Homo sapiens: one gene and its partners. The protein of the gene in region 1 purifies or fractionates together with the protein of each later gene. This does not show direct contact. Each region holds a gene or a part of one and is shown in the gene's direction. Other genes may lie near its edges.

The links.
Region 2: the proteins of TMBIM4 (region 1) and DFFA purify together in Homo sapiens (affinity purification with mass spectrometry; one large-scale study listed by BioGRID and IntAct). This does not show direct contact.
Region 3: the proteins of TMBIM4 (region 1) and SLC27A4 purify together in Homo sapiens (affinity purification with mass spectrometry; one large-scale study listed by BioGRID and IntAct). This does not show direct contact.
Region 4: the proteins of TMBIM4 (region 1) and HACD3 purify together in Homo sapiens (co-immunoprecipitation; one large-scale study listed by IntAct). This does not show direct contact.
Region 5: the proteins of TMBIM4 (region 1) and MFN1 purify together in Homo sapiens (co-immunoprecipitation; one large-scale study listed by IntAct). This does not show direct contact.
Region 6: the proteins of TMBIM4 (region 1) and PRPSAP1 purify together in Homo sapiens (affinity purification with mass spectrometry; one large-scale study listed by BioGRID and IntAct). This does not show direct contact.

What each region holds. Positions count from the first base shown.
Region 1 is NC_000012.12:66,135,241-66,139,476, reverse strand, and holds the end of TMBIM4 (protein lifeguard 4), read left to right. Parts: intron 1-707; coding exon 708-753; intron 754-1,310; coding exon 1,311-1,517; 3' UTR 1,518-3,631; downstream 3,632-4,236.
Region 2 is NC_000001.11:10,455,752-10,459,590, reverse strand, and holds the end of DFFA (DNA fragmentation factor subunit alpha), read left to right. Parts: 3' UTR 1-3,069; downstream 3,070-3,839. UniProt on the Homo sapiens protein: Inhibitor of the caspase-activated DNase (DFF40).
Region 3 is NC_000009.12:128,357,391-128,360,197, forward strand, and holds part of SLC27A4 (long-chain fatty acid transport protein 4), read left to right. Parts: intron 1-2,807. UniProt on the Homo sapiens protein: Mediates the levels of long-chain fatty acids (LCFA) in the cell by facilitating their transport across cell membranes. Appears to be the principal fatty acid transporter in small intestinal enterocytes.
Region 4 is NC_000015.10:65,568,394-65,572,478, forward strand, and holds part of HACD3 (very-long-chain (3R)-3-hydroxyacyl-CoA dehydratase 3), read left to right. Parts: intron 1-1,697; coding exon 1,698-1,810; intron 1,811-2,579; exon of another isoform or gene 2,580-2,680; intron 2,681-3,154; coding exon 3,155-3,261; intron 3,262-3,841; coding exon 3,842-3,973; intron 3,974-4,085. UniProt on the Homo sapiens protein: Catalyzes the third of the four reactions of the long-chain fatty acids elongation cycle. This endoplasmic reticulum-bound enzymatic process, allows the addition of two carbons to the chain of long- and very long-chain fatty acids/VLCFAs per cycle.
Region 5 is NC_000003.12:179,388,905-179,392,989, forward strand, and holds part of MFN1 (mitofusin-1), read left to right. Parts: intron 1-1,099; coding exon 1,100-1,234; intron 1,235-3,076; coding exon 3,077-3,155; 3' UTR 3,156-4,085. UniProt on the Homo sapiens protein: Mitochondrial outer membrane GTPase that mediates mitochondrial clustering and fusion. Membrane clustering requires GTPase activity. It may involve a major rearrangement of the coiled coil domains.
Region 6 is NC_000017.11:76,329,567-76,333,651, reverse strand, and holds part of PRPSAP1 (phosphoribosyl pyrophosphate synthase-associated protein 1), read left to right. Parts: intron 1-1,216; coding exon 1,217-1,389; intron 1,390-2,985; coding exon 2,986-3,101; intron 3,102-3,553; coding exon 3,554-3,609; intron 3,610-4,085. UniProt on the Homo sapiens protein: Seems to play a negative regulatory role in 5-phosphoribose 1-diphosphate synthesis.

The sequences.
Region 1 (4,236 bases):
TGTCCTGTGCTGTTTGCTGTCCAGTGTCCAAGAACTGTTGTTTCATATATTTTGTCTGGTTTTATTTAAGGAAGGAGGATAAATGTGGCCTCTGTAATTCCCTGTGACCTGAAGCAGCTGATAAGTCCCATATTTTATAACAAAAGACTGACTTCTTAGATGTCCTTTCTTATATAATTTATACTCTCTATATATAACAATTGAATTGTAACTCATAAAATTATAGCAGTGTCAGATGTGTCCATCAATTAAGTTCCATAATACATAAGAATAAAATGGAAAGTACATTGTGAACTTCGATAGACATGTTCACAGAATAACTTGTTATTACTTGGTTTAAAAGTGCAATCCTAGTTCATTTGTTTATATATTTTCTAAAAGTTTTTATAGATCTCTGAATTAAAATACTTGTAATGATATTTCTGCTTTTATCTGTATTTTATGTTCCAAAACTTCACAAATTATACTGTTAACTAGGTTTGTATACCATAAAGACAAATGTTGAATAAATAGCTGTTCTTTCAATTTCTTTAAAAAAAAGATCCAAGATGGGCATTATATTCATTGTATGTTTACAAATTCTTACATTTTAGTTATTCTTCAGCAAAAAATCCAGATGGATGTTTTTTTCAGAAAGTGTTGAATGGGTTTACAAAGTTTTTTTGTAAGGAACAATATTGCAAATTACTAAAATTGTATTTTTATAGGCTGTTTGCTCTTTTGTGGATATTGTGCCTGTCAGGATTCTTGAAGGTAAGTTATGTTATAATGGTTAATTTGAAATATAATTCTGGCTGTGTCAATATAAATAACCTCAAAAAGCTATAAGAGATACTCTTATGATAGGACACTTAGTTATAATTATCCAGAACATTTGTATATAGAATGATTATAGAATTATCCCTTTAGAAAATCAGGGTCTTGTGTTGGTCCTTATTATTGACTGAAAAAAAGATGAATGAATAAATGAATTAAATTACATAGAAAGAGGCCCTTGCTTACAACTGCCAAGCTCCAGTGGCACATTTAATTGTGAAAAACGAAATATATTTTTAAATAATTTATATGTGGAATGCTGTTTTTCAAAGTGGGTAATTTAGTTTAATGGAATATAACCACTCATTCATCCTTCCATCCAACAGAGGCAAGTTTGGACTTGCCTTGCCTTTTTCTGCTTTTAACATTTGTATTCAAAGTTGTACACCATTGTCAAATGTATAATGTAGCAGTAAATCATTAGAGGAAGTAAGTTAAGTCCTGTTAATACTGTTCTCAAATATAAACATATTTCTTTAATCTCTTCCCTATAGTTTTTTTTTTATAGTGAGATAATGGAGTTGGTCTTAGCCGCTGCAGGAGCCCTTCTTTTCTGTGGATTCATCATCTATGACACACACTCACTGATGCATAAACTGTCACCTGAAGAGTACGTATTAGCTGCCATCAGCCTCTACTTGGATATCATCAATCTATTCCTGCACCTGTTACGGTTTCTGGAAGCAGTTAATAAAAAGTAATTAAAAGTATCTCAGCTCAACTGAAGAACAACAAAAAAAATTTAATGAGAAAAAAGGATTAAAGTAATTGGAAGCAGTATATAGAAACTGTTTCATTAAGTAATAAAGTTTGAAACAATGATTAAATACTGTTACAATCTTTATTTGTATCATATGTAATTTTGAGAGCTTTAAAATCTTACTATTCTTTATGATACCTCATTTCTAAATCCTTGATTTAGGATCTCAGTTAAGAGCTATCAAAATTCTATTAAAAATGCTTTTCTGGCTGGGCACAGTGGCTCACGCCTGTAATCCCACCACTTTGGGAGACCGAGGCAGGTGGATCACGAGGTCAAGAGGTTGAGACCATCCTGGCCAACATGGTGAAACCCCGTCTCTACTAAAAATACAAAAATTAGCTGGATGTGGTGGCACACACCTGTAGTCCCAGCTAGTCAAGAGGCTGAGGCCAGAGAATCGCTTGAACCTGGGAGGTGGAGGTTGCATTGAGCCAAGATCACGCCACTGCATTCCAGCCTGGTGACAGAGCGAGACTCAGTCTCAAAAAAAAAAAAAAAATTTTTCTTCCTAAATTAGCCACGCATAGCAGTTCGTTTGCAATTCAAAAATAATTTTATGAGTAGATAAGAATATCAGTTTACCGTTGTCTAGTGATTTTATCTAAATTTTCCCTGAATTATTAAGTAATATTGATTTGGCTTTGATTCTGAAGTAGTAGAGTCTTTACCATTATAAACTGTAAATCTCTTTTTGCTTAAAAGGAAAAAAATGTAAAAGATAAATTCCACAGAGAATTATTCAGTATTACATTAAAATGTTAATGACTTTTTATTTTAAATTGTACTAACATTAAAAGTTGGCCTGAAAGTCAGATATTATGACAAAATTTGACATTAATTGTTTTTAAAGTATAGATTTCATTTGAAATTATAGAATGGTAATGTGGTTAGAGGACACCAAAGATACTGGGTCATCAGCCATTAAGTATATCTATTTCAAAATTAAAATATTTGGGAAGTATTGTCTTATGGTTTCATTTGTGTTGGTCCACACAGCATGTTAGGTCAGTGTACCAGTAACCAATGAAATTTTGTCAAATTCCCTCACTGTACTAGTTTGTTAGGCTGCCATAACAAAGTTCTACAGCTTGGGTGGCTTCAACAAGAAATTTGTTTTCCCACAGTTCTGGAGGCTAAAAGTCCAAGATCAAGGTGTTAGCAGGGTTGGTTTCCTTTGAGGCCTTTCTCTTTGATTTGTAGATGGCCATCTTCTCCCTGTGTCTTTAAATGGCCTTCCCTCTGTACTTGTCTGTGCCCAAATTTCTTCTTCTTATGAGGACACCAGTCATACTGGATTAGGGCCCACACTGAGGACCTCATTTTTCCTTAATTATCTCTTTCAAAACCTATCTCCAAATACAGTCACATTCTGAAGTGCTGGGATTAGGATTTCTTCATGTGAATTTTGGGGGGACTACAACTCAGCCCATAACACCCCCTAAGTATTTCCCAGCTATTAAGTTGAAATAAACTTGTAGTATCAATTTAAGCTTGCATGATTTGTAGATGTAAATTTGACTTTATTATCATTAACTGTTGAATTATCAAGTGTATGATGCAGTGCAATCAAGTTTAACAGCATGGTGGGTAAGAGCATCTAGATTAGAATCATTGCAGTCCAACCAGGTGCTTAAGTGACATTTGGCGAATTATTTATCCTTCCTTAGGTCTTCTGCCTCATCTTCATAATGGGAATAATGATGTCTAGCTTATTGGGCTGTTATAAGGATTAAATGAGATAGATAAATAAACTAAACTAAGTGCTTAATTAATGTCAGCTGATGGTATTAATACCATTTTCTTTTTTTTTTTTTTTTTTTTTTTTTAATTTATTTTTTTATTGATAATTCTTGGTTGTTTCTCACAGAGGGGGATTTGGCAGGGTCATGGGACAATAGTGGAGGGAAGGTCAGCAGATAAACAAGTGAACAAAGGTCTCTGGTTTTCCTAGGCAGAGGACCCTGCAGCCTTCCGCAGTGTTTGTGTCCCTGATTACTTGAGATTAGGGATTGGTGATGACTCTTAACGAGCATGCTGCCTTCAAGCATCTGTTTAACAAAGCACATCTTGCACCGCCCTTAATCCATTTAACCCTGAGTGGACACAGCACATGTTTCAGAGAGCACAGGGTTGGGGGTAAGGTCACAGATCAACAGGATCCCAAGGCAGAAGAATTTTTCTTAGTGCAGAACAAAATGAAAAGTCTCCCATGTCTACTTCTTTCTACACAGACACAGCAACCATCCGATTTCTCAATCTTTTCCCCACCTTTCCCCCTTTTCTATTCCACAAAACCGCCATTGTCATCATGGCCCGTTCTCAATGAGCTGTTGGGCACACCTCCCAGACGGGGTGGTGGCTGGGCAGAGGGGCTCCTCACTTCCCAGTAGGGGCGGCCGGGCAGAGGCGCCCCTCACCTCCCGGACGGGGCAGCTGGCCGGGCGGGGGGGCTGACCCCCCCCCACCTCCCTCCCAGACGGGGCAGCTGGCCGGGCAGAGGGGCTCCTCACTTCCCAGTAGGGGCGGCCGGGCAGAGGTGCCCCTCACCTCCCGGACGGGGCAGCTGGCCGGGCAGGGGGCTGACCCCCCCACCTCCCTCCCAGACTGGGCGGCTGGCCGGGCAAAGGGGCTCCTCACTTCCCAGTAGGGGCGGCCGG
Region 2 (3,839 bases), on another chromosome or scaffold:
CAATCTTGTTTCTCCAGTTAATGAATTTTTTTATGTGTTTGTTTAAAGATACATATTAAGCTTGTAGACCATAGGGACATACGGAGAGTCCATTGCTAATATCTCACTCAGTATTGTGAAATTCTATCTCACCACCGTGAAACTCTTCAGTTTTCTAATTGCTTTATCAGCAGGGGGTATAAAAGGTCATGAAAGCAATTTCCACATGCTGTGGCTCCAGGTCTCTGGGTGTGAAGCAGAGCAAGCCTGGTTTGTCCTCCTCCTGTCTCCACACAGACGGCTTCTGCAGGTTTGGTAATCTACAGTACACTCCTTGCAGGGAAAAGGTGATGAGTCATCATGGACTTATTTGACCACTTTTTATGCATGCTTAGAGGAAAACAGAATACTGTTAAGAGATTCATCTGCTAGTTATTAAGTAAAGAAATATCACAATAGGCCGGGCGCAGTGGCTCACACCTGTAATCCCAGCATTTTGGGAGGCCAAGGTGGGCGGATCACCTGAGGTCAGGAGTTCGAGACCAGCCTAGCCAACATGGTGAAACCCCGTCTCTACTGAAATTATAAAAAATTAGCCGGGTGTAGTGGTACACGCCTGTAGTCCCAGTTACTTGGGAGGCTGAGGCATGAGAATTGCTTGAACCCAGGAAGTGGAGGTGGAGGTGAGCCGAAATTGTGCCACTGTACTCCAGCCTGCAACAGAGTGAGACACTGTCACACAAAAAAGAAAGAAATATCACAATATGTCACAATAGGCCGGGCGCAGTGGCTCACACCTGCAGTCCCAGCACTTTGGGAGGCCAAGGCAGATGGATCACCTGAGGTCAGGAGTTTGAGACCAGCCTGGCCAACGTGACAAAACCCAGTCTACTAAAAATACAAAAATTAGCCAGGCGTGATGGTGGGCACCTGTAATCCCAGCTACTCAGGAGGCTGAGACATGAGAATCGCTTGAACCCAGGAGGTGGAGATTGCACTGAGCTGAGATCCTGCCACTGGGCTCCAGCCTGGGTGACAGAATGAGACTCTGTCTTTAAAAAAAAAAAAAAAAGAAAATCACAATAAGTCCTAGGGTAAAGATGGGGGTACAGAAAACAATTAAATAGAACAAAAACAACTGTTTCCTTTTCCTGTGATTCAAGAAGGGCTTAGATCTTCTACTCAGCATCCTTTTACTAATGCCCTCCATTGGCTCTCACCCCAACATTTCCTTTTTTATAGCTTATTTTGTAATGCCTCCTTAATTATCCTTTAATAGAAGCCACCGCTGATAAGCTACCTACACTCATACAGAAGCATTAATATAATGCCCCAGATGTACTGTTTCAGGGCAAAAAGGAAAATAATTTCCAACAAAGTGGTGTGTGTTTCACTGTCAGATGCTTGCACTTACACACGGAATCGCTGTGCATCCGACAGAGGCTGATTGGCACATGGGGCACGGGGATTGTCAGCTCAAACACCGTCAGCAGCGTTGCCCTTGGAAATGGGATTTCCCAGAACAGTAAACGTGTCTGTCCTTGATTTACAGAGTAGCTACATTCCTAGGAAATCCAGGGTACATTAAAACTCACCATGTTACCCAGGCTGGTCTCAAACTCCAGGCCTCAAGCAATCCTCCCACATCAGCTTCCCAGAATTTTGGGATTACAGGCATGAGCCACCACACCCAGCCAGAATATTTTATTTCTGTTAGACACACAGAGCGTTCGTTGACTCGTCTGGGCGTTAGTGTTAATATTCTGTACTTGAAGCAAGCCCACCAAGCGGCTGAACTGGGTGGATAATGGAAAATGTCCTGTGGATTTGGGAGTGAGACAAACCGGCTTGAGTCTAACCTCTCAGTTAGTCTAAGGCTCCAAGCTTGAAAGGGTTAAATGAAGTACTATATTTGTTTTGTTTCGTTTTCGTTTTGTTTGAGGCTTTGCTCTGTTGCCCAGGCTGGAGTGTAGTGGCACAATCTCTGCTCACTGCAACCTCCATCTCCCAGGTTCAGGCGATTCTCTTGCCTCAGCCTCCAGAGTAGCTGGGATTACAGGTGCCCGCCACCACACCCGGCTAAGTTTTTTTTGGTATTTTTAGTAGACACAGGGTTTCACCATGTTGGCTAGACTGGTCTCAAACTCCTGACCTCAAGTGATCCACCTGCCTTGGCCTCCCAAAGTGCTGGGAGTATAGGTGGTGAGCCACCACGCCTGGCCTAAATGAAGTACCACATGACCGACAGACCGACCTGGGGAACATAGCAAGACCCCATCTCTACAAAAATGTAAAAAATAAAAATTAGCCGGGTGTAGTGGTACATGCCTGTAATCCTAGATACTCGGGAGGCTAAGGCAGAAGGATCACTTGAGCCCAGGAGTTCGAGGCTACAATGAGCTGTGATCGTGCCACTGCACTCCATCCTGGGTGGCAGAGTGAGGCCCTGTCTCAAAATAAATAATCCAGTCCCCCCCAAGAAAGGAATGAAGTGCTATAATGAGAAAAATCCTAGTACCTAACATATAGTAGACAGTGGAGAGTGGTTCTCTTTCGTTTCTCAGGGGCAGACAGATGGGGTGCTGGAGTCCTCTATCAAAGAGTCAGAGCTCTATCCCAGATGTGTAATGAACGTGGTCACAGACATATTGTCCCATTACCATTTACCTTCCCTATAACCACTGTGCCTCCAGCCTTGTAGAATAGACACATAGGAGCGCAGCAATACGTCTAAAAATAGGAGTGAGAGAGGGCAGGGCATGCCCGTTCTTGTGGTAGAAGAAAAGAATGTCAAAGAAAGCAGCTGGGACTAATGAACTTTACATTAGCCATATTCCATTATTTCAGCTTAAGTCAAATGTCGGTCCTCATGAGGCAACTGGCTTTGACAGGAGCTACGCTAATTACCACTTACCAACCTTTAATTTCTGGGTAAAAGCAAAAGAGAAAAACTAATGGATTTTTCATTTTCCAGAGAGACAAGAATAAAATAATAGTAGTCTGTAGAAAAAAGAAAACCTGCATCAATTACAAGAATTATTAATGTATCTTTAATAAATAACCACATTATTTAGCTGTTTAATTTCCTAATTACCTGTTCAAGCTTTTTTTTTTTTTTTTTTTTTTTCTTTTTCACCTTGAGGGTTTTTGTCCATCTTGTTTGTGGGGTTTTGCCTTAAATCATTTTGGCTGCATCTTATACACCTTGTGGTTTTTAAGGACCTTGGACATGATCTAGTCTGAACCCCCATCCACCGCCTGAGTCCTCCCAATAGGTCTGACAGTGAGGGTCTCCATTCTGTTTGAGAGCCTCCAGCCAGGGGGACAGACGCCCTCCCCAGGAGCTGCACTGCATTTACAGGTTGCAGAACCTTAGAGTTGACAACTTGCTCAAATGATATCAGACAACACTCGTGCAATCACAAGGCTGCAAGGAAATGAGCCCACAGATTAATGCATAGATAGCGGATTTTCTTCACTCTTTTTCTTTTCTTTTTTTAAGACAATCTCGCTCTGTCACCCAGGCTGGAGTTCAGTGGCTCTATCTCAGCTCACTGTAACCTCCACCTCCCAGGTTCAAGGGATTCTCCTGCCTCAACCTCCCAAATAGCTGGGATTACAGGGGCGTGCCACCACCCCCAGCTAATTTTTGTATTTTTAGTAGGGATGGGGTTTCTCCATGTTGGCCAGGCTGGTCTCAAACTTCTGACCTCATGTGATCCACCGTCCTCAGCCTCCCAAAGTGCTGGGATTACAGGCATGAGCCACCACACCTGGCTGTATTTTTCAGTATCATGTTATAAGAACTATCACCCCCAGGCTGGGCGCAGTGGCTCACGCCTGTAATCCCAGCACTTTGG
Region 3 (2,807 bases), on another chromosome or scaffold:
GATCATGCCACTACACTCCAGCCTGGGCGACAGAGTGAGACTCTGTCTCAAAAAAAAAGCATCTTAGCAGGTGGGAACCTGGTCAGACTCATGCTCTACAAAGCTCTCTGGCTGCTGTGTACGGAGTGGGAGAGGATTGCAGGCAGCCCTGAGGGAGCTGGGAGACGAGGGAGGGGCTGTTGCAGTTGTCCAGGTGGGAGGTGGGCAGCGGGCCCGCAGTCGCCCACAAGGCAGCACCATCTTTCTATCTGTTGGCCCATTGGTGGCTCTCAAGAGTTCCCTGGTGGGCAGGAAATGCTGAGGCTCATGCCCATACCTGCCCCTGCTTTCCTCAGCCCTTGGTGCCTCTTCTGGGCCCTCCCTGGCTGCTCACCCTTTGGAGCACATTTCCCTGGCCACCTCCCACGTTGTCGTCATATCAGTCCTGCCTTGATGGTGGGCACTCCCTAGCCAATGTGGCTTCTGCCAGAGAGTGGGTACCTGGAGTGCCTAAAGCATCGGGGAGGGTTTAGGACTTCAGTGTGGTTCTGAAGGTTGGAGACACTGTGGCCAGGCTAATGGCCAAGACCATGAGCTTCCGGAGGATTGAGCAGCACCATACTTCTGTCCAGGAAAGGCAGGGAGGCTCTCAGACCTTGTATTTCAGATGGGCTTTGCTGCAGAACAAACCACCCCCAAACTTACTTGCCCCAAAATGGCTCGAAACAACCAGTTTATTGATGCATAATTCTGTGGGTAAGCAATTTAGGGGTTAAGTGCAGCTGAGCAGTTCTTCTATTGACCTTGCTTTGGGGTCATCACTTAGTAACTTAGCTGGGGCAAGAGGCAGTTAGATGGCCTCACCCACGTGTCTGGCTCTCGGCTGCTTACCTCTGCAGCACTGTCCAACAGAACTTTCTGCAGCGATGGAAATGTTCTAGGTTTCTGCTGTCCAACACAGTAGCCACTAGCCTGGCAGAGCTACTGAGCACTTGAAAGGTGGCTGCTGGCTGGACGCCGTGGCTCACGCCTGTAATCCCAACACTTTGGGATTAAATTTTGTTTAATTAACTTAAATTTATTTATTTATTTGAGATGGAGTCTTGCTCTATCGCCCAGGCCGGAGTGCAGTGGTGCAATCTCAGCTCACTGCAACCTTTGCCTCCTGGGTTCAAGTGATTCTCCTGTCTCAGCGTCCCCAGTAGCTGGGATTACAGGCACGTGCCACCACACCTGGCTAATTTTTGTATTTTTTTTATTAGACATGGGGTTTTGCCATGTTGGCCAGGCTGGTCTCGAACTCCTGACCTCAGGTGATCCGCCCACCCTGGCCTCCCAAAGTGCCGGGATTACAGGCGTGAGCCACCATGCCTGGCCTTGTTTAATAATTTAAATGTAAATAGCCACATGAGGTCATATTGGACGGCGCCGGTCTGGGCCCTCACCTGGGATGGCTCATCTCTGCTCCACGTGGCCTCTCACCCTTTGGAAGGCTAGACTAGCCCCAGGGCACCCCCAAGCAGGTAGAGGTGGAAGATGCAAGGTCCCCCGAGGCCTAGACTCACCCAGAACTCCTACAACATTGCTTTTGCCACCTTCTGTTGGTTAAAGCAAGTTGTAAAGCCAGTCCAGATTGAGGCCAATGGAGATTGAAAAAGTCGAGCTCTTGCCAGGAGAAGTGCCAAAGCCACATAGCAGAGGTGTGTGTGTACAGGGAGGGGAGGAATCTGCAGCCATTTTTGGTAGTCTGTCTCATCCAGGTTCCAATCCCAGTTCTACCACCCTGAGCATCAGTCTTCTCATCTGTACAGGATTAATACCATTGATTGAAAGATGCGGCCAGGCGTGGCAGCTCATGTTTGTAATCCTAGCACTTTGGGAGGCTGAGGCAGGTAGCTCGCTTGAGCCCAGGAGTTCAAGATCTGGGTGGGCAACATGGCGAAACCCCATCTCTACAAGAAATACAAAACTTGGCCAGGCGCAGTGGCCCACGCCTGTAATCCCAGCACTTTGGGAGGTCGAGGAGGGTGGATCATCTGAGATCAGGAGTTCGAGACCAGCCTGACCAACATGGTGAAACCCCGTCTCTACTAAAAATACAAAAAATTAGCTGGGCGTGGTGGTGGGTGCCTGTAATCCCAGCTACTTGGGAGGCTGAGGCAGGAGAATCGCCTGAACCCGGGAGGCCGAGGTTGCAGTGAGCCAAGATCGTGCCACTGCATTCCAGCCCCGGTGACAGTGCAGGACTCCGTCTCCAATAAAGAAAGAAAGAAAGAATTACAAAACTTAGCCAGGCACAGTGGTGCACACCTATAGTCCTGGCTACTTGGGAGGCTGAGGTAGGAGGATCACTTGAGGTCGGCAGGTGGAGGTTGCAGTGAGTTGAGATGGCATCACTTCACTCCAGCCTGGGTGATAGAGTGAGACCCTGTCTCAATAAAAAAGAAAAAAATACCATGAATTTTTTATGTACGAGTAAGAAAATATGTGCTGCTAATTATACTAGTTCAGAGATGTTAAAATCTGCAAGCACGTCCGTGTTAGAATCCAGAGAATACGGTTGAGCACCTGCCTTATGGGGCTGATGTACAGATGAAATAAGCTCACACTGTTACCTGGTAGGTACTCAAAGGGAGACATCACAGTCAGAAGACCTCCGTTCTGGTCCCCACTCTGCTGTCACTCAGCATGTGACACTAGGCAAATAGCCTCCCTTCTCCAGGCCTGTTTTCCCATCTGCAAAGTAGGGGTGGGTGGGTAACTAGCAGCTGTCCCCATGCCCCAACTTTGCCACAGCTGCTGTATGACCATTCTTTGCAAACTGTAAA
Region 4 (4,085 bases), on another chromosome or scaffold:
TGTCACCCAGGCTGGAGTGCAGTGGTGTGACCTTGGCTCACTGCAACCTCGGCCTCCCACGTTCAAGCGATTCTCCTACCTCAGCCTCCCGAGTAGCTGGGACTACAGGCATCTGCCACCACGCCTGGCTAATTTTTGTATTTTTAATAGAGATGGGGTTTCACCATGTTGTCCAGTCTGGTCTTGAACTCCTGACCTCAAATGATCTGCCAGCCTCGGCCTCCCAAAGTGCTGGGATTACAGGCATGAGCCACCGCACCCAGCCATTATGTGTATTTTACCACAATTTTTAAAATGGGAAAAAGAAAAAAGCAAAAGGTCGAGAATATTCTTTAAAGACGAGCTCAAATTGGGGACTTACCCTATAAAAAATCAAGACAGTATAAAGATTTAGTAGCTAATACCACGTTGTATGGTACAAAGATAGTCACACAGACCACGGGAACAGAATAAAACCCAGAAACAGACAACCCAGATATCTATGAAGAATAGAATGTCTATCATATATTGGAATGTCTTGCCACGTGAAAATGAGTGGACTATAGCCACATGCATCAACATAGATGAGTCTTGGCCGGGCGCGGTGGCTCATGCCTGTAATCCCAGCACTTTGGGAGGCCGAGGCGGGTGGATCACAAGGTCAGGAGATCGAGACCATCCTGGCTAACATGGTGAAACCCCGTCTCTACTAAAAAATAGAAAAAATTAGCTGAGCGTGGTGGCGGGCGCCTGTAGTCCCAGCTACTCGGGAGGCTGAGGCAGGAGAATGGCATGAACCCGGGAGGCGGAGCTTGCAGTGAGCCAAGATCGTGCCACTGCACTCCAGCCTGGACGACAGAGCGAGACTCTGTCTCAAAAAAAAAAAAAACAAGACCAAAAAACATAGATGAGTCTCTGGCCCGTAACTCTGAGTAAGAAGTAGTCACAGAATGATACATATAGAATGATTTCAGAAAGTTTTAAAACAGGCAAAATGAAACAATATACTGTTCAGGAATACATACACAAGCAGTAATTCATAAAGAAAAGCCATGGGCCAGGCACAGTGGCTCATGCCTATAATCCCAGCACTCTGGGAGGCTGACGCAAGAGGATCACTTGAGCCCAAGAGTTTGAGCAAGCTTGGCCAACACAGTGAGACCCCGTCTCTACAAAAAAATAAAATTAGCCAGTGTGGTAGTACACACACCTGTGATCCCAGCTACTTGAGAGGCTGAAGTGGGAGGATTGCTTGAGCCCAGAAGTTCAAGGCTGCAGTGAGCCATGATTGCACCACTGCACTCCAGCCCGGGTGACGGAGCGAGACCCCGTCTCGATAAAAAAGAAAAGCCATGGAATTATTAACACATGATAGTAGTTATTTATAGGGGTCCCACGTTTGTAGTGCTCTATTTCTTAACTTGGGTTATATAAACTCAAATGTTTATTTGGCAGTATTCTTTAGACTGCGTTTGAACATGTGTCTGTATTTTAAAGAAATGATTTATGATATAGTTACACAAAATACTGTACCTGTCTAGTCACAAAGACTGGTTTGGGCACTTTACTTGTTCCAGAACTGGAGCAGGATTAAACTGGTCGAGGTCAATCTTTTCTATTTGCCTTGCATTTAGTGGGGTTAGATTTCAGATAACACATTTCTATAACTTTACATATATTTTATTAACTTTTTTCTCTCTTTTGGGTCTTTCTAATAGCTTCTTGGAAGAAATTTTATTTTGTTTATCATCTTTGGCACCATGGAAGAAATGCAGAACAAAGCTGTGGTTTTCTTTGTGTTTTATTTGTGGAGTGCAATTGAAATTTTCAGGTGGGTAGAAATGCCAGGATGGTGTTTGAATGCTGCTCCCTGTTTGCAGCAGCTCTGTTCTTGAGGGAGTTGTTATCTTAGCCAGAGTCTCATTTGGTTTGGGACTAAGATTACATATGTGGAGAATTCTGGTTGCACCTATGTGCTCTGCAAAGTTGAGACAGATTTTTTTAAAGCCGTCATTGGATCATAATACCAGACTGGATACTAGGGAGCAGAAGAGGAGAACCAGAGAAAGGGAAGACTCATCTTACCATGACTTCAGGATCTTGCAGTCTTGGAAAGAGAGGACCCATCCACATGGAAAAATTCTTGAAAGGGCTGAAGAAACAGGAGGTTGAAGGAGCAATCCAGGTTGGATAGAACTAATTTAAGACTAAATTTCTACAAGGGATGATAGAAATGAATCTTATACCACAAGATTATTGAAGTTTGAAATGGCCTCTAACCCAATTTTCCCGTTCTCGGTTGTTAGTAGCATAAATATCTTTTAAGAAATGGATCTAGTTAAAGTAGATGTATTCTTCTTTACCAGACCATACACACTCCATATGTCTTCCCTTTCAGTCAGCTGGAGCAAGGATTTTGCAAATGAACTTCTCAGCTCCAGGTTTGGTGGTATTTTGACAAAGTTGCTAGTTGAGAGAGAGAACAGGCCATAGCAGCCTTAAATTGTGTCTTAACCATGGTCTGTGTCCCATGGCACCCAGTGTACCCTCTAATAGCCTTAATACAAAGGTAAAACAGATTATAGGTCCTATGTTTTTCAAATCAGACACGTAATGTGCTGATGTAACAAGGTTTGAGGGAAGCACATCTCACACAGGAGAGTGAAAATCCAGTTATCACACTTATGAGCTATAAAAGGATCAGATTATGGGTCCTTAATGCAATGTTTACTGTTTGAGAAGGAACATTTATTTTCTCAAGGGATGTCTTTTAAAATAGCATATGTCTGATTCTAGATTAGAGGTCTTCTGTATACTTTAATTTTGGTAACAACTCACTTATCCAGAAATAAAGTATCTAATATCCTTACCCACCGGGAATGTATATCAGCACTAGGAATAAAGCCAAAAAACATCTGAGTATCCAGTCCGTTTACCGAATAAAGAGGGTTCCTTTGAGACCTAAACTTAGTCTGCCATTAAAGAGCGTTCAGATCCTTTGAAAATTTAGGGCGCAGTGTGGCAGGAGTTTATGGGTTGATAGCCAGCGTTATAATTCTGTTCTGAAGAAGCCATGTGTGGCTGAGAAATAGAATTCTTCTATTTAAATGATATTCTAAGGTTGCATTCGGAACCTGAAGTGGCTTTTCACATTGGAATCATTTATTTTCAATAGGTACTCTTTCTACATGCTGACGTGCATTGACATGGATTGGAAGGTGCTCACATGGCTTCGTTACACTCTGTGGATTCCCTTATATCCACTGGGATGTTTGGCGGAAGGTACTCTCAGGGACTCTTAGCTTTCATAGCTTAGCTCCAGGGGGTACCCAGAGGCTGAGAGACCAGTCCTTTCTTCCCCGGCCTTAGTCCGATAAATGGAAATGTTGGATTTTTCAGGGATTTCTTTCCATGGGCTTCCTTCCATAATACTCCTGGTACCCAGACTGTTCGAGAAAAGTAGCTCATTTTGTAACATTGGAAAGCCAGGTGGTTATGTCCTGCATGCTTCCCATTTGTATGATGCTTTTAGTATTCCAAAGGGGGTTCTTACTGATGACTTTATTTTATTCTGACAAACATCTCATACATAAGTCAGCTAGGGATTTTCCTCTCCATTTTATAGAATAGAAGAAGCCCACTACCATGACTTCCTCATCTGTCTCTCTGTTGACAGGTTGGAGGCTGATCTCTTAGAAAAGTAGGGGAAAAAAAGGAGAGGCATGAGCTTTCTGTACAAAGGGAGGAGAAAGCCTTTCCAGCACACCCAGAACTGAAACTTTAGAGTACTAGGACTGGAAGTTCCTGTCATTAAATGTGACTGTTTCATTTGCTTCTAACAAGTTCTTGTTTCTGTTTTCAGCTGTCTCAGTGATTCAGTCCATTCCAATATTCAATGAGACCGGACGATTCAGTTTCACATTGCCATATCCAGTGAAAATCAAAGTTAGATTTTCCTTTTTTCTTCAGATTTATCTTATAATGATATTTTTAGGTAAGTATTGATTCTTTAATACAGACTTTTTCTTGTCACTTCTTAGACAGTAGAATTAAATCATTCAGAAATGTAAAAGTCCATATGAGAATTCTTTTGGGACAGAATTAGA
Region 5 (4,085 bases), on another chromosome or scaffold:
GGATGTGGCCTTGTCTGTATGTGTAGATTGGGGTTTGGATAATTAGGAATTCCGAGAGTGATGTCAACACTTAGTTCTAGAACAGATAACTTTGCAGTAGTATTTGAAATTGTTTAGACTCAAGAGACAGGAATTGCAGGAACGGTAAACTGTTGCAGATACAAAATCAAAGTCTGAACTAACAGTTAATAATTGTAGAGAATGGTTACCAGGAGACTGCAAATTTGAGGAATTTGTTCATTTATTCATTCATTCATTGACCAAGTTTTTTGAGCCTCTATTTTATCTGATAGTTTTAATTTATATTAAGGATGAGTTTTCATCTAGTTAAGATACTTGGACATCCAAAGAATCAGCTGAAATTCATATAAATAAAAACAAAGTTAATGTAGCTTTCCCTGCATTGATTATCAAACATTTATTAATTGCCTCCCACGCAGCAGTTCATGCTAGGGGTTATGGGAAATAAAAACTCGACTTGATCCTCTTTCTTAGAAGACTTTGCACATTAATGGAGGCAACCTCAAATAATTTCTCAGTTAAAATAAACTAAGTAAATATTTAATATTTAACAAAATATTAAAAGAATGACACATGCTTCATCTGTCTGAGATTTGGTGGAATGGGAAGAGGTATGCTCCCATTTAAAAATATAATGTTTGCCAAAGTTAATATATGAATTAGCCCTCAAATATAACCCTTTGATTCTAGAAATATTGTTAAATTTTGCTATAAAGTATTTTTGCCTATGTCACAAAAGTGCATGGAATTTTTTTTCTGTTCTTGATAATTTCTTACTTTGCGCAGGGCCCCAAGCATGAGTAAAGTTTATTGTGCTTCTGAAGAAACACACCCATCTTTTGTCTTTATGTAGCTTATTCATGTTCACAGCCATATAGCAGAGGTAATATCGTCTCTTGAGCCAGGATAAAATGCAGCCCACTAGTGCCATATCTTCCCTCTTATCATTCTTAGTGTTCTGATTCCCTATAGTTTAGAAGTTTTTTAAAACTTGTGTTCTTCTTTTTATGTGAGCTTTAAATTAAAGCTTATTCATTTTTGAAGACATTTATGACTGCTTCTAAATTTTTATTTTAAGACAAATAGCTACCACTTTTGCTCGCCTGTGCCAACAAGTTGATATTACTCAAAAACAGCTGGAAGAAGAAATTGCTAGATTACCCAAAGAAATAGATCAGTTGGAGAAAATACAAAACAATTCAAAGCTCTTAAGGTATTTAAACCTTTCTTCTCAATAATTTGAACATTTACTGGTCTCATTACAAAATATGTAAAATTATTAATGAATTTGTATTCATTCCTAATAGCTTTTTGTGTTGGTTTAAATGAAAATCTTCCATATTTAATTCCATGTGGTTTGCAGTTTCACCGAAGGTTTAAATGAAAATCTTCCATATTTAATTCCATGTGGTTTGCAGTTTCACTGAAGGCTAATTGCAACAAGAAAACAAATCTGAATTGAAAGGGACTTTATAGATCGAAATTTACTCTTCATTAGGCTATATTATTCCCTTTTCAGAACAGAAGTTGTATAATTAAAAGTGAATTTTTAGTTGTGTATGTCCAAGACCCATAACTTCTGTTTTCATGGGGGACTATTGATTATGTATACTTAAATCATAAAAGTAAGATGTCCTGATAAAATGTGGATTTCTGGTTTGATATGATTCATTATATATTATTTAGGGTCTAATAAAATTTGCTTTTGGGGACAAGACTGAAAGTGTCACCATTCGGTCTGTAGTTGGAAATTCTTACTCAGTGCTTAAGAACTTAACTTTCAGCTTTCTTACTTTTGCTTACCCATTAGCTGGCTTGTCAGAATGTCTTGGAAGAACCATTAAACCTCATTTAGTCCCTGCTGTTACTTCTAGGACACATGCTACACAAAATTGCCTGTGTAAGAACAGCTTAGTAGTCAATGTTTACAAATTGGAGGGACTGTCTTTGTGACCTGGATTTTGGGGCATGTACTTAAAACATCCATAGTAGTGATTATCCATCCATAGTGTCTTCATCTGACCAACAACACGTGTTCATTGTACCTTAGTTTCAAAATCTCTGGAAAAGATGACTGCCTATCACTTAGATATTTCCAACCTCACCCACCCATGTGAATTGTATGTATTAGATTGCTCCTATTTTAAGTCAGCTCATCCCATATATACCTTTCAAATGTGGTGAAACTGTGCAGTAGAAATTGGTTTTTTGTCTTAACCTAGGTAAGTTTTTATGGTTTTTTGGTTTTGATTTATTCAGCTTTTGAAAGAGGAATACTAGGTAAGTTTTTAAATAGTATTTCATTTTGTTATAATAAATGATAAAATAGATTATTGGCATTAGTCATGTAGCTTTCTGATTTGGGCAAGACTGGCTTGAATAAGTATGAATATTTTTGGTCTGCTAATCATTTTTCTAATAGAAAAAAGTTAAAAAAAACAAATACCATAATATTTGGAATTTCCATTTTTTACTAGATTAGGCTCAGCCATTTGGATAGAATTTAATGTGCTAACGCTGCAGGAGAGCTACCTCAAGAAATATATACAGTAGAGTTCAGAGCTGATGTATACTTGTATGACCTGAAGCATATGCACACAGGAATAAAGTAAAACAAGACCCTCCCCGTCCATAATGGAGAGAGAGAGCCCACTCAATGAATATGTGCCCTGGCATAGTGTGAGAGTGGGAAACAAATCTGTTTTTCTGTCAGTTTTAGTTCCAGTTTTCCTCTCTTGTGGGCATTTGGCTGCATCAAGGATGAATCTAGTGTTTAAAGGAAATATTTTTGGTATGCCATTGCCGCTGTAACATCTGCTACTTTCCTTGTATGTCCATAAGAAACACTGTGTACTTTGTGCATTATTTAAAGGGAATTTGCAAGCATAATCATGACTCTAGGTAACTTAGGATATCCCGTGTAAGGTATGATTCCACTGTCTGTTATGCTCTTCATTGTTTATTATTAAAGTTTTTGTCTTTTAATAATGGATGGAATGCATTTTTCTCCTTGACCTTTATAGTAATTAGATTGGTGTTTTATTTTTTTAATTAGAAATAAAGCTGTTCAACTTGAAAATGAGCTGGAGAATTTTACTAAGCAGTTTCTACCTTCAAGCAATGAAGAATCCTAACAATAGAGATTGCTTTGGTGACCATGATAGGAGGAAACGAAACTTGTAAGATTGGAACAGTTGTTATTTTTATGAAATTACTTTAAATATGAATTGTACTAACTGTACCTAAATAGCAAAGCCCTGTGTAGATTCTGGTAATGATCTGTCTCAGGGTATGTGTATTTTTGAAGAGTGTTATGTCCTTAGTTTTAATTTTGAGTAAAGAAAAGGCTAAAATCATGAATTAGTTACAAGCAACAGTACCAACTTATGTGACCCCTGAGGGGTGGGGCTGTGAGCTCTTAATTTGTTTTTGATTCTGAAAAACTCTGCTTCCTGGCATCCAGGAGTTAGAGATTGAGCCTTTCATCTTCTTTCTCAAAACTAGTTTTTGATGCTTTCTTTCATGGGAATAGTCACTTTTTTATTTAGTAAATCGCATTGCTGGAACCACCAAGGAGTGTGGAATGTCCTTGAGTGTATTATTTATGCAAGTCACAGTCACGTTGCCATCATGGCAGCTATGTGAAACACTAATAAATGTGTTTTTACTTTTTATTCCCGTTAAAACTGATGTAAAACAGGATAAAGGCTTGTTATAGTCACTTATAAGTATCTGGGTCTAAGTAATTTCCTTAGATGTTTCTAAAGAAACATTTTCAGCTTTGCTCCCATTATGATTCCAATAAGGAACGCTTTCCTAGTGCAATTTTAGGAGTAAAGTTTGAAGAGATAAAAATAGCCAAAGATAGGAGACGTCTGAATTTTGAATGATAAACAGTGATGTTTTAAAAAAGCTGTTGTTCTTCAGGAGGCATTTGCCTAGGATATTGCTGGATTATACCCCATTGGAGGCTTTTAATTTTATTTGTATGAATTTTCCAGGATTTCATTAAAAATTATTATTGTATTTTTTACCTTAATGAAAGATTTTGGGTTCAAATATCT
Region 6 (4,085 bases), on another chromosome or scaffold:
GTTTTTTGAGACAGAGCCTCACTCTGTTGCCCAGGCTGGAGTGCAGTGGCATGATCTCGGCTCACTGCAACCTCTGCCTCCCAGGTTCAAGAGATTCTCCTGCCTCAGCCTCCCCAGTAGCTGGGACTACAGGCACGTGCCACCACACCTGGCTAATTTTTGTATTTTTAGTAGAGACAAGGTTTCACCATATTGGCTGGGCTGCGTCCAGCCTCCAGGGAGGTTTTCGAAAATTAAGTTCCAGCTGGGTATAGTGGGTCATGCCTGTAATCCCAGCACTTTGGGAGGCCGAGGTGGGCGGATCACCTAAGGTCGGGAGTTCGAGACCAGCCTGACCAACATGGAGAAACCCCGTTTCTACTAAAAATACAAAATTAGCCACGTGTGGTGGTGCACGCCTATAATCCCAGTTACTCGGGAGGATGAGCCAGGAGAATTGCCTGAACCTGGGAGGCGGAGGTTGCAGTGAACTGAGATCACACCACTGCAGTCCAGCCTGGGCGACAGAGTGAGACTTCATCTCAAAAGGTCAGGAGATGAAGACCATCCTGGCTAACATGGTGAAACCCCGTCTCTACTAAAAATACAAAAAATTAGCCGGGCGAGGTGGCGGGCGCCTGTAGTCCCAGCTACTCGGGAGGCTGAGGCAGGAGAATGGCGTGAACCTCGGGGGGCGGAGCCTGCAGTGAGCTGAGATCGCGCCACTGCACTCCAACCTGGGCGACAGCGAGACTCCGTCTCAAAAAAAAAAAAAAAAAATTATATTCCAAGACCTCCCCACACTCAATGGAAAGAGACCAAATCTTTCTGTTAATGGCAGCTAAATGGAAGGGCAGTTGGGTTTCCCTTGGCATTCAAGCTGGCCTAAGCCCAAATCCCTGGGAGGCTGCCAGCAGGTGTTGGGTAACTCTGGTCACCAGCAGTTGCTTCAGATGTCACTGCAGTAACGGGGTATGACACAGGAGACCCAGGCAAATGTGAGGGTGGGTTAACTGTGCTGTGAATAGGAGTAACCTCAGATGAAAGCTAGGGCTTACTCAGCTACAAAAAGTCAGAAAGCTTCCCCTGCCTTCATGAGGTGCCATTGTAAGCTAGTGTGATGGTAAAATTCCCACAACACCCATCTGGGCAGCCCATGTTAAGTTGATAAAGTCAAGATCTTTTCTAGGGTTGATACATGGAATTAATCCCCAAATACAAACTTTGACTGTTTCAGAGATGTGAATACAGCTGTGATGGAGTTGCTCATCATGGCTTACGCACTGAAGACTGCCTGTGCCAGGAACATTATTGGGGTCATCCCCTACTTCCCCTACAGCAAGCAGAGCAAGATGAGGAAGAGGGGTTCCATTGTGTGCAAGCTGCTAGCATCCATGCTGGCGAAAGCAGGTGAGTGTGCGCGGGGGCCCTGGGGTTCCAGCATGATCCTTTAGGGCTCTTTCCTAGTTGGACTTAGCTCATACCTCAGATATCCAATCTGGGATCTGAGTGTTTGTTTCCTTTTGAACAGTTTTGGCTAAGGATATGTGAGCTCGGTTAGAAATTCTTTTTTTTCCCTTATTCGCTTTGTCCTACTTTAGAATACCATTGCTTTAGTGTCTTCTCTTCTCTGTCATCTGTCACATATTTTCTATTTCATCTTGTCATCGCTAAATTCTTAGCTGGCAGTCTTGGCATTCTTATGTGATCTTTTGATCTTCAGGTCTAGATTTCTATATCTGCTTTGTTAGCTAAATTCCATTTTTGTTCATAGTATTCAAGCTGGATTTTCTTTTACTCCCTCTCCCCCACCCTTGCCTTTCTACATAGTGGCTCATTTTCATTGCTTTATTCTCCTTGTGTGGCGGGGGCACGCTTTCTGGCCTGTAAATCAATGTAATATTTTACAATTGGGTTTCTATTCATCTGATGTCTGTTCTAAAACTTTAACGTATATTTGGGTCCTCGGAAAGAAATGTATGGTCCTCCCTCAATGTCCTTATAGGATTGGTTCCAGGAACCCATCTCCCGCTTCCCCGGCTCCTCAGCAGATACAAAAACCCAAAGATACTCAAGTCTTCCATATAAAATGCCATAGTATTTGCATATAACCAACACAGTCATCTGTAGATTATTTATAAATACCTAATACCATATAAACACTATATAAATTGTTGTTATGCTGTCTTGTTTAGGGAATAATGATGAGAAAAAAGTTTCATACCTGCTCAGTACAGACACAACCATTGTAGGCCTAACTACCTTTTCAGTCTGTGTTTCGTTGAATCCACACGTGGAACCCATAGATCCAGATGGTCAACTGTATGTGAATTTCATCCTCTCCAAAAAACTATAGTGTTTCTGGAAAGAACAAGTAATACTGGTTCTACACCCTGGAAGTTTTGCTGTGACCTTTGACCATTTGCAATGTGTTTATATATATGTACCTTTTCCTCTTCAGTACTCTTGATTATAAGAGTATCTCTTCATTGTTTTTCTATAAGAATACTTGAAACATTCTTTGTTACATACAGAAATTATTCTAAGCTTCAATATCTTTGTGTTATATGAGTTTCTTTTCTTCTAATATGTATATTACTTTGCGTTTGTGTTCTTGCTACTTTTTGCCTTCGCTACAGTTCTTTATCCTTTCTTTTAAGATTCTGTAATCAAGGCCTTACTGTTTTTTCCATCTCTTCGGTATTAATTCCATATTCATATTTTTGCTTCTGCCACATTATTCTTTTCTCAATTTTCTGGACCAAGCCAAAAGTCAATAATTCCCACTTTCTTAGCTTTAGTTCTTTGTCCATGTGGAAGGTTGTAGCCTTCTCTACATTAAGGCTTTATTAAGGTTAACAATCAAGCCTGTGACTGCAGTGCTTAATCACAGTACCCCGTCTTCAGTCTGCTGGTAGGAAGCAGGAGTTGAGCATCTAGTTTAGGTCCACTGTAGCCATTTACCTGTAGGGGTGAACTTTGTAATTTTTTGTTTTAAAATTTCAGGTTTAACTCACATTATCACTATGGATCTTCATCAAAAGGAAATACAAGGCTTTTTCAGCTTTCCTGTGGACAACCTTAGAGCCTCACCTTTCCTGCTTCAGTATATCCAGGAAGAAGTGAGGAACCACCAGCAAACACCCCATTGTCCTCAAAAGAGATCTTATTTAGTTTTTCTCTGGTATCAGATTTCGTTACTGGAAGGCACATCAAATGAGCTCTCCCTTAAGTCACAATGCCTGAGGCAGCAGACAGGGTCAGCTTTAGTCGTGGACGATCATAGCTTTAAAAGACACTAAAAACAGATTTTTTTTCTACGTATCTTTAGCAATTTGCTTATGTTTTCTAAAATGAATGTTTTAAGAATTATTTTTAAAAAATTCTTGACGTAGGAGTGCTTTTTCCAGTGATGTTAATTGATAAATATTGAAAAATCTAAAACTTGTGACTAAAATTCTAGCATATTTGATGACTAGTTTGGATCATTATAAGAGGGAAAACTTGAATACCAGCATCCAGGTGTTATTTTCTGATAACTTTTCAGTATTTTCTATTTTTCCTTCAAATCTAGATTCCAAATTACAGAAATGCAGTCATTGTAGCTAAGTCTCCTGATGCTGCAAAGAGGTAAGTAAGCTAGACATGGGTCCTGATCCCTCCTGAGTGCTCCCGAAGTCAGAATGAGCTGCTTTGGAATCCAGAGGCTGTCACTCGTGGCCTTTGAAAGCCCACTGGCTCTCATGTTAACCCCTCCATCGTTGTCATGTCCCATGCCACACACAGCTTTATCTCCAGCCTCCAGACAGCACACATGATCGCTGAGTTGCTCAGCTTTCCTCTGGGAAAACAAAGTTCCTTCAAGTTCTCAGAGAAAGGAAAGCAATGAGGCTATGAGCATTTTTCAAGCAATGGTTTTTTTTTTTGTTTTTTTTTTGAAATGGAGTTTCATTCTGTCACCTAGGCTGGAGTGCAATGGCGCGATCTCGGCTCACTGCAACCTCCGCCTCCTGGGTTCAAGCAGCTCTCCTGCCTCAGCCTCCCCAGTAGCTGGGATTACAGGCGCCTGTCACCACTCCTGGCTAGTTTTTTGTATTTTTAGTAGA